2 separate regions of the Homo sapiens genome follow, and region 1 is reported to be linked to region 2. The links are microRNA targets in miRTarBase. Many come from high-throughput screens and were not tested one by one. Region 2 holds a microRNA gene; the other region holds the end of a gene's coding sequence.

The links. The annotated mature microRNA hsa-miR-124-3p reads UAAGGCACGCGGUGAAUGCCAA and lies in region 2 at 2,769-2,790, opposite strand. An mRNA with a match to its seed (bases 2 to 7 or 8) in the 3' UTR can be bound and repressed. Matches are read on the target gene's strand: a 7mer-m8 pairs with bases 2 to 8, a 7mer-A1 pairs with bases 2 to 7 and ends in A, and an 8mer does both.
Region 1: the mRNA of SWAP70 is a reported target of hsa-miR-124-3p. Seed matches in the 3' UTR shown: 7mer-m8 at 2,226-2,232.

The regions. Positions count from the first base shown.
Region 1 is chr11:9,749,032-9,754,103 of GRCh38, reverse strand. It overlaps SWAP70 (switching B cell complex subunit SWAP70), which reads right to left. Exons shown (of 12, transcript NM_015055.4): 11 at 4,921-5,017; 12 at 1,111-4,240. The coding sequence ends at 4,134. Among named protein-coding and RNA genes, the nearest start is that of SBF2-AS1, 6.7 kb to the left of the region's middle.
Region 2 is chr8:9,900,631-9,905,630 of GRCh38, forward strand. MIR124-1 (microRNA 124-1) reads right to left here and starts at 2,842; the gene lies at 2,758-2,842. It overlaps MIR124-1HG (MIR124-1 host gene), which reads right to left and starts at 2,699. Exons shown (of 3, transcript NR_024281.1): 1 at 59-2,699. It overlaps LOC124902057 (a long non-coding RNA gene), which reads right to left. Exons shown (of 4, transcript XR_007061170.1): 2 at 4,529-4,732; 3 at 3,902-3,998; 4 at 3,440-3,557.

The sequences.
Region 1 (5,072 bases), not on the chromosome of region 2:
TCCCTGCCCTCTGCTCTCTGCCAGCTCACAGAGAAACAGGCATTCTCCCTTCCAGGTGCTCCTCATTTGCACTGAAGAGGTCAGTCAACTCCTAGGACATCTGAAAGGGAAACCCTGACTCCAAGGGTTATATTGTGTTCTGGATAATAGAACTTGCCTTTCTGTAGAGCAGGTTTTCTCAACCTTGCCACTACTGACATTTTAGTCCACATAATTGTTAATGGGGGCTGTCCTGGGCATTTTAAGATGTTTTGCAGCATCCCTGGCCTCTACCTACTCGATGCCAGCAACACTCCCTCCAGTTGTGACAACAAAAAATGTCTCCAGACGTTGCCAAATGTCCCCTGGAGGGCAAAATTACCACCAGTTGAGAACCACTGTGATAGAGAAAGAACAGTTTTTTGTTTTTGTTTTTTTGAGACGGAGTCTCCCTCTGTCGCCCAGGCTGGAGTGCAGTGGCATGATCTTGGCTCACTGCAAGCTCCGCCTCCCGGGTTCACGCCATTCTCCTGCCTCAGCCTCCCGAGTAGCTGGGACTACAGGCGCCCGCCACCACGCCTGGCTAATTTTTTTGTATTTTTAGTGGAGACGGCGTTTCACCGTGTTAGCCAGGATGGTCTCGATCTCCTGACCTCATGATCTGCCCGCCTCAGAAAGAACAGTTTTTAAACACACCAACCAGTGTCCTCTCCCTCCCTCCAAGAGGGAAAGATCAGCTTTCCAATATACAATCAAGCTGGCCTGAGTGGGCCCACTTAGTCCACAACAGGCATTTTATCTTGGCAACAATGCAAACCACAACAAACAAACAAAAAGCCACACGGTTTACTCTGGTGAAAGAAAAACTGAAAGGCATAAAAAGAAAACTAAGGAAAACAGAGGTAAGAAAATTTGAAGGTAACAGCAACAATGAATGAGAAATCATCTTTGTAAGTTCCCGTTTGTGAGCTGACACATCAGCCATGGCTTCCCCACATTCGTGACTCAAACACCAAACATGAGGCCACAGCTAACTTCTTGGGGTCTAAACTCCAAACCCAGTGTTTTCAGGAAATGTCCCTAAACCAAAGTCCATCTCATTATATGAAAATACACATAGATACACCCAACTTTACCCCCCACTGTTTTATTAAATCAGACAGTTTAAAGTGTATGTTCTGGTATTTTTAATTTTCTTACTGGGTCCATTTTACTTAAAAAAAAATATAAAACATTTTTAATGTATCTTAGAAAAATTAGCAAAAAATTGAGAAAGTTGAGCATATTACATTGTACAATGTTTTCATACGAATGTTTTAAAATCATAAATATTTGGTTTCCCCTCAACATAGCACATCACAAAAATACATTTCAAAAACTTTTTTCATATATAATTCCTGTAAATGATCATATCCCTACTTATTAAGGAAAACACCTGATGACAAGCACTCAAACACTCTTGAAATTTTCTGTACAGTAATTACAAAAGTAAAACCAAGAGTTCTGTTGGCCCTTTAACAGGTGAAACCATTTTAAATAGTATCAAAATATAATTCCAAATGGGATATACTTAGTTCATTTCTGTGCTATCTTTGATTCACAAGTATCTATCTTAGCCAAAGCACTGTTTAAAAGGATATTGCCTCCTAGACATAGTGCCACTGAAAACCAAGATGTAAATCGGTAACACTATGCATTAAACAGAAAGCTTTTGCACAACCACATATGTAACCGCTTAGTCGTATCAAGGTCCACATGTGACCAGAAAGCAGGCAGTCCTTAGGTGGATGGCCAGGGGCCAGGCAGTGTGAGGTCTCCAAGAACCCAGGGCTAGAGCAGCTAAGCCCCAGGTCATGTTATCAGCTACAGCTGTGGAATAAGCCAGGTTTAAAGAAGGACATTCTGCAAAAGTGCAGGACCTATTTCACAACTTCTAGAAGTAGAAATTCACATATTCCATCATGATCCTCCCCACCATGCAGAGACTATTTGACTCCTAAGGCCACACTGTTTCCATCCCATAGATTTCACAGAGGTGATTAGGTTCTTTGTAGAATACTTTTTCCTCATTCTGGAATGAGGGATACTGGAGTCTTCTGGTGTAATGTGCAGTCAAACCACAGGAAAGGTTCCATTCCTTACCTAAGTCTCGTTGGTCTAATACACCTGCCAGCTACTGAATAAAATGATAATACTGATAAATGGCTGGGCAGAAATCCAACACCCAAATCAGCTGTCAAATTTCAAAGGCACATGATACAAAAATATTTTAGACAATACACTTTATAAAGGCAACTATAAGAAACCGTTAAAGTTACATTTTTATTAAACAGCCAAAAATCTTAAGACAAATACCTACAGACCATTTCTTCATTGGCAAATATTTTCCAGTCATAAAAGGTGATAATTTATGGGATTATATTCCAGTTTCCTCTCATGTAAATAAATACATACACTGAATCTCTAATACCACTCTCTCTAGATGTATACATCTATTTGGAATTGCTTTCTTAGTATGCACTCAGCAAGCACTAGCATAAGAACACCTGAGGTTCTCTGTCCTCATTTAATACCTGTAAGAGAAAAGGACTTTATTCTACTGAATTCTGCCCTTTTTTTGCAACAACTGAATTATCCCCATATTTATTTACAATTTTAAGCTTGATTGCTGTCCACGGAGTTACTGTTGCTTCTCAATTATAACTAGTGTTAGAAGGCTTGATTTCATAAATGTTCTTTTTAATCCAAAGATAGATCATATATGAAAACCTTCCTCAATACTCCTTTCAAATCAGATGCATATAAACTATGATCCCAATTTCCCTGTTAGACGTATTTCTGTTGGATATTTCCTCCGTTGTCACCACAGAGGAAGGGAAAAAGCAGAAAAGCTGCCCACCTAACAAAGGCTAACATAATGGCTAGGCTAATATATTGACATGCTATCATCTTTATGATGTTTTGAATCTAACTAGCAGACATACAGTCAACTTCCTGTTGACCATGTGCATCTAATCTGCTTTCTTAATTATACAAATAATTTTTATTTCAAATTAGCTTCTTTCTACTACTCAGTATAATCCTCTCACAGCCTGGCATATACTTGGTAGCACATCATTCACTAGAGAGAGTACGAGAGAAAATTAGGTTGACAATATGGGGCAAAGGGGTAGTCTCCTTTAAGGTGAGGGGAAAGGAGATGGGAATGAAACATGCCAAGTGTATGATGGTTAGGGAAAGAAATATCTTAGTAGAAGCTAGAAAACCTCTACTAACAGGATCACATTCCAAAAGGGCAACCAGGAAATGGCAATGACTCCATGACTTCTCTGTCAGAGCACCAATGGTCAAAGGCATTCCATGTCAAGTGTCAGGAAATGGAAAGCGAACCGGCCAATCTAGTTTAACAGCACATACTCGGAAAAGGAAACACGCTGCCAAAGGAAAGAGCTGACATCCAGTCCACAGAGGTTCTGAGTACCCAGTGGCAGTGAGCCCCTCCAAACTCTGCAGAGCTGACTGTGCTGTCTGCACCCTGCCTCATTTGGGGAAGAATCTGAGAGAGCTAAAAGACAAATTTCAGAAGGTGATGTTTTCAAAGAAAGAGTAAACAAACAGCTTGACAATGTTGACTTTTTTTTTCTTTTCAGGTAACCCTTGTTTGCAGGAAGATAAATAAGAAGGCTTCCTTAGGATACTGACCCACTTAGAGAGGCACAGAAGGAAGAAGAGTTAAAAGCAGCAAAGCCGGGTTTTTTTGTTTTGTTTTGTTTTGTTTTGTTTTGAGATGGAGTCTCACTCTGTTGCCCAAGCTGGAGTACAACGGCATGATCTCAGCTCGCTGCAACCTCCGCCTCCCACGTTCAAGTGATTCTCCTGCCTCAGCCTCCCAAGTAGCTGGGATTACAGGCGCCCGCCACCACGCTCAGCTAATTTTTTTTGTATTTTTAGTAGAGACAGGGTTTCACCAGGTTGGCCAGGCTGCTCTTGAACTCCTGACCTCAGGTGATCCACCCGCCTCGGCCTCCCAAAGTGCTGGGATTACAGGCGTGAGCCACCACGCCCGGCCCCCAAAGCTGTTTCTTTTGTCTTTAGCGTAAAGCTCTCCTGCCATGCAGTATCTACATAACTGACGTGACTGCCAGCAAGCTCAGTCACTCCGTGGTCTTTTTCTCTTTCCAGTTCTTCTCTCTCTCTTCAAGTTCTGCCTCAGTGAAAGCTGCAGGTCCCCAGTTAGTGATCAGGTGAGGGTTCTTTGAACCTAAGAGGCAAACATGCTTTAAATACAGGAAGTATTATATTCTTCAGGATACCCCATCATTTTTCTACAGACAAAATAGTAACTTCCCTACTTTATTTCTTCTTTGAGGAACATGCATAAATGTCATACCAGCTAAAACAATTAGAAGATGTATACCAAGGGGATTAACTGGGCCCTCTTACCTATTAGGGGATAAGATTTTCAAGAGAAATTTATCCTGAACAGCTTGGTTTTTTTACATTTGGGCTAAAAAAGTTTCTTTAGTACAATTCAAATACACAAGTGAAACAGAAAAATAAATTTAAAAATAAATATATGGGCAGGGCGTGGTGGCTCACGCCTGTAATTCCAGGACTTTGGGAGGCTGAGGCGGGCGGATCACGAGGTCAGGAGATCAAGACCATCCTGGTTAACACGGTGAAACCCCGTCTCTACTAAAAATACAAAAAATTAGCCGGTCGTGGTGGCGGGCACCTGTAGTCCCAGCTACTTGGGAGGTTAAGGCAGGAGAATGGCATGAACCCAGGAGGCGGAGCTTGCAGTGAGCCAAGATCGCACCACTGCACTCCATCCAGCCTGGGCGACAGAGCGAGACTCCATCTCAAAATAAATAAATTAATTAAATAAAATAAAAATGAAAAATAAAAATAAATATATGATTACTTCATAGAGTCTGTTACCTGGTTCTATCAGTCGAATTAATCCTTCATGATGGGCCACTTTGTCCTTCCAGCTCTTGGTCTTATTAGTTGCCATCTCCAGCTTCTTTTTAACTTCCTGAAACAAAAGTGGATTTTGGACTATGCAGACACACGGGTAGTTTAAGAACCAA
Region 2 (5,000 bases):
GTATCACCAATTTTTCCTTTGACACATTTCTAAATCTGGAAGTATCTGGTAGAGTTACCTCAAGAATCATATAAGCTTGCATCACGATGGGGACTGTGATGGCAGTGGTGCATATGAGCCCATCAGGTCCTTCTTCGCGTATTCAGTCAGCAAACTGCCTCAACCGTGTCCTACTTTTTCTTAAGCATATAATTCCCCTTTCATTTAAGCCAGACTGTAGCTAGAGGGGCTCAAATAGGTAAGAGAGAAGATACTAAAGAGTTAAATGCACTCAAAGGGGAGAACTATTCAGATTTCTTATAAAATTACTGGTGGCATAAATAGGCCCCAAATACAGAAGGGAAGGGCTGACCTTCACTCGGACACCTCATTTGAGCACAGAAGGGGCCTGGCAATTACACATGGGGCCAAGTGGTCTATTCATCTCTTTGCCATTTTCAGCCATTAAAGCCCTACATAAACATACATTTCATAATGAGACCCACCCGGTGGACACAGGCAAATGCCCACACCCATGCGCACAGACCTAATAGACCCAGAACACTCCCACACACATTAAAGCTTTCTGGAACAAGAGTTTACATAAGTAATGAAGTAAAAAATATGCCCCTCCCATCATAGATTATCTGCAGCAGAAACCTGGCAGGCGTCAGCCATGGTACCTGTGGTTTAAGCTCTCAGCTTAAAGCATCTGAAAGGGGCATTACGTGGGAAGGCATCTGGAGGTTTTACAGGAGGGCAGCACATCAGCGAAGGGTACAGCAACCTCTGAAGGAATTACGGGGAAGCAGTTACTAAAAAGAGGCTCGTCAATGTGGACGTTTGTGGGGCAAGGGGTTTAGTAATCGGAGGCTTAAACCATGCCTAAGAGAAGCATCCAGCGGCCTTCACAGTGAGCAGAAGGGGCAGAGCAAGGCGCTTCACACCCCAATAAGGCCCAGCACTGACTGCTTTCTTCTTCCCAAACCTGTCCAGAAAGGGCGGAGGGGACACCAGGACTCAGAAAGCTACTGGTTTCGGGGGAGGTATATTTTGAAGGCAACGGCAAATAGACAAGGGCTTGTGAAGGCTCAGGGGTGAGAGAAGCTGTTCTCCCTTTCTGTCCTGCAGCCAAGCTTGCCTTCTGGGACTCCAGAGGCAGCCCAGCACCTGCAGTCTGCAGGATGTGCACTGCAGCTTTCTCTCTGCGGGGGCAAGCAGGTTGTGCCACATTCTGCAGACCCAGAGAAGGTTCTGGAAGTATCTAGGTGAGGTGCAACACACTTAACCTCTGCCTGACTCTAAACACTGCTTTAGGAGGGCAAATGAAGAGCCTAAGAGTTAATAATTACACAAGGATTGCACACAGTAGGTACTTAATAAATATTTGGGGAAACTGAGGCCGGGGAGGGGCCCTGATCCAAGGCATCACTGAATACTAATTTATTTAGCAGGCTAGACTGAGGCTTTGGAGAGGAAAGAAGTCCTCAGTAAGCTTCAGTGGAGACTCTTAGGGCTTGATTATTGTGTCAGGAATCAAATTAATCTCCTAAGCATCCCTTATGGCCTTGGCCTTGCAAAGCCAGGCCTCTGCCATGCTCGGGGGAAGGGATGCAGCAGGCTTCCTGGGCAGAAGGATCCAGCTCTTGGCCTCCTTTCTCTGCTCCTCCCTCTACTGCAGGGACCTGCCCCTCCTCCATTTCCTCCACCTGGAAATTAATGAGCTTAGGTCTTGCCCCATCCGCTGCAGCTTGGTGGTTAATACAGAGCTGGAAATGGGATGAGACTGTGGCAGCGCAGTACGAGGGGGGTCTCTAGGACCAGCTGCTGCTCAGGGTCTAGTGATGGGAGGAAGGCCTGATTTGGGAAGCAGGTTCTTCAGGATGAAAAGCTTAACCCTTTCCATTCCCTGACAGCCTCTTTCAAAACAGTCTTTCCTCAGACCCCCAGTTGCACACATTCTGTTTTTCCTTCTGTTCACATTTTTAAAGGAACACATGTCTCCCTTGGGTCCATGTAGGTTATTGTGCCTCTCCCTTCCTCTGCAGCTCCTGGATCTCTGCCTGAAACTGCAATAACAGCTACAGGGAGGGCGTGAGGTGCTCCTTAGAGCCATGACCACGCTTTCAACTCCGATAGAGCTTGTGAACCCGCTGGGAGCTGGCTCCTTCTTGTCCACATAGCCCAACGACTTCCTTAAGCTTGTCAGGTGCTCTCAGCTCTACAGCAAAGTGTGACAAACAGCTCCCCCTCTCCCTTCCTACCGCCTGCCCTCCTCCCCAAACCTCAAGCAGAACACAATATATCCGCAGTCCAGGCCCTGAGGCAGTCTGCCAGTCTCTGGATGCCAAATTATTATTTTTTTAAGGGCAAACCAAAAAACTCAGCTCAGAACAAAAACACAGTCACGGAGGAAGGTGTTGACCCACATACAATGAGTCCTGAGCCCAGAGAAAAATCTGCACACACAAGCACTCCGCAATGCGCTCCCAGGCGACCCCCTCCCCACGCACACCGCATCTGTGCTGCACAGATCTGCTTCTGTCACAGAATCAGCTTCTGTTTCTCTCCCTGAGTCTGTTTGCATCTCTAAGCCCCTGTCTGTCACAGGCTGCACACCTCCCCACCCCACGGGCTCCGGTGCGGGACAGGCAGCCGGAGGGAGCTCCAGACCCCTCCCCTCGCGCCCGCGGCCGCTGCGCGGAGGTCTGCGGAGGGCGCCTGGCTCGGTCGGTCGCTCCTTCCTTGGCGGGCCCTCGCCGACCCACGGTGCTCAGCCAGCCCCATTCTTGGCATTCACCGCGTGCCTTAATTGTATGGACATTTAAATCAAGGTCCGCTGTGAACACGGAGAGAGAGGCCTTTCTCCTGAGGAAGGAAAGGAGGAAGGAAGGAAGGAAAGGTGAAAGAAAGGAAGAGGGGTGGGTAGAAGATGGAATAAGAAAACCAGGAAAAAGAAATAAAAAGCGGCGCGTGTGCGTGCGCACTGACAGCGGGGAGAGGGATGGGGGTGGGGAACGCCGGAGGAAGGGACCACAGCATCCTCCCCGCCGCAGCTCCCCCAATCACACAGACAATGAGATAACAGCGACGTCTTCCAAAGGCTCTTTGTTCTCCCCCATCCTTTCGCATCCAGGCTTTTTCCTGCAAAGCGGAGGGGGTGGAGGGATGGGGGTGTGGGTGGAAGTGGGAGACGGAGGGGTGCCTCCCCCGTGTTAATTACCCCGGCTCCCCTCGCCCCTTTCCCCGCGCCTCGCCTCCCCTGCAGCTCCAGACAATGAAAAAACAACATCGACCCCACCTCGCCCCAGCGCAGCAACCCACCCACCCATGTCGCCCTCTGCTTCGCCCAGGAAACTGAAGGGGACTAGGAGGAGGAAGAAGAGAGCGAAGGACAAGGAGAGCAGCGGGGACTCGGCAGCGGCAGCCGGGGCAGGGCGCGCGGCCGCCGCCTCTTTACCTCCATCGCTGAGTGGGGGCGCAGCCGGGCCGGGCGTGCCGCAGGGGCGAGTTGCCGCGGTCCGGGGCTGGGACCTGGGGATTCAGCCTTCCGGAACTCGCCTGCTGCAGTCCTCTCGCTCAGGTCCCAAGTGGTGGAGGGGGGAAAGGAAGAGAGACGAGAGAGAGAGAGACAGAGAGAGAGAGAGAGAGAGGAAGAAGAAGAAGAAGAAGAAAAAAAAACCATAAGAGCGAGGCCCATCTGGCCCCTCATCAGCTTTGTCAAGTCTTGCATACGCTAAAATGCTAATGACCTAGATAGCTCATGCAAAATGCAGCAGGGAGGGCGGGAGCGAGGGAGGTGGGAGGGAGGAAGAGAGAGGAGTGCAGGGGGGAGGGAGGGAGGAGAGGCGGAGGGAGGGAGAGAGGGAGAGAGCACCCCTACACTCTCCCCACCCCACCCCCAACTGTCAGCGGGCTTTACCAGGTAAAGGGTGGACGTAGATTTAAAAGGTCACTCGTGTATAATGCGGCTGGATCCCCGGGTCAAAAAAAGGGGGCGAGACAGAGGATGAGAGTCCCTAAAGCCAAAAGGACAATAAGACATCATTTTAAGCCCCCACCCCCATGCCCTCCTCCACCTCTCCACACTGTTTACACACAAATCCTGTCGCCGCCTCATGCATGTGCACGGACATGTCAATTTCTCATCAATTTCTCAGCGCTCCTATCGACAGACACCCGAATTCTCATTCCCAGCAAAACTCATCCACTGGACCCGAGGGAGGAGAAGACCCCTTCTCCTCCTCAGTGCTCTTCGGGCTGGCCCATCCCTACTCACCTCCATCTCCACTCTCTACTCCCTTAGCCCTCCAGGCAGCAGAGGGCTCCTTCTCTTTTCTAAGCCTTGAGTCCCCTGTCCCCTTTCCAACCCCCGCATCTTGAGAAGGAGACGCAGAGTAGCAGGAAAGCCAAGTCAAGTCCACCTAGGTCTCCCACAATTCAGCTACCCCTCCCAGAAAAAAAAAGAGACCCCAACAACCCCGACCCCTCTCCTACGTAGACACTGTGAAAGCAAGCCACAGGGACAAATAAAAGACAATCCGAATACCCTCAGCGTTCCGCACGCCGGGCGGACGCCCTTCCGCAGCGGCCACGCGTGTTCTGGGTTCAGCGCTCCTGCGCGTCCCTTCTCGCCGAACCCAAGGTGCTTTGTCCCGGCGGCCACACAAGGTCTTCGGCTTTTTGTTCTCCTTTTTTAAGAGACTGGCCGCAGTCCCCAGCGATTCAGCCGGCCCAACCAAAGGCAGTGGATCTACTGAAATGAAAAGGATCGAGATAATACACAGGCAGATGAATAAGGGGGGGGATGCTGGAGGTGCAGGAAGCATCCTGGGAGCGGCCGCCACGGCCAAGCCCGAACTGCTTGCTGCCTTCGCTGGGGAAGGCGCAGGAGGCGAGCCGGCGCTGGTGGTCGCTCCACCTGGCAGGAGGAAATGATAACCATGATAAGGAACGTGATGATGATGATGATGATGATGATGATGATGATGAGCATGATTTAAAAAAAATCAGTCTCCCTC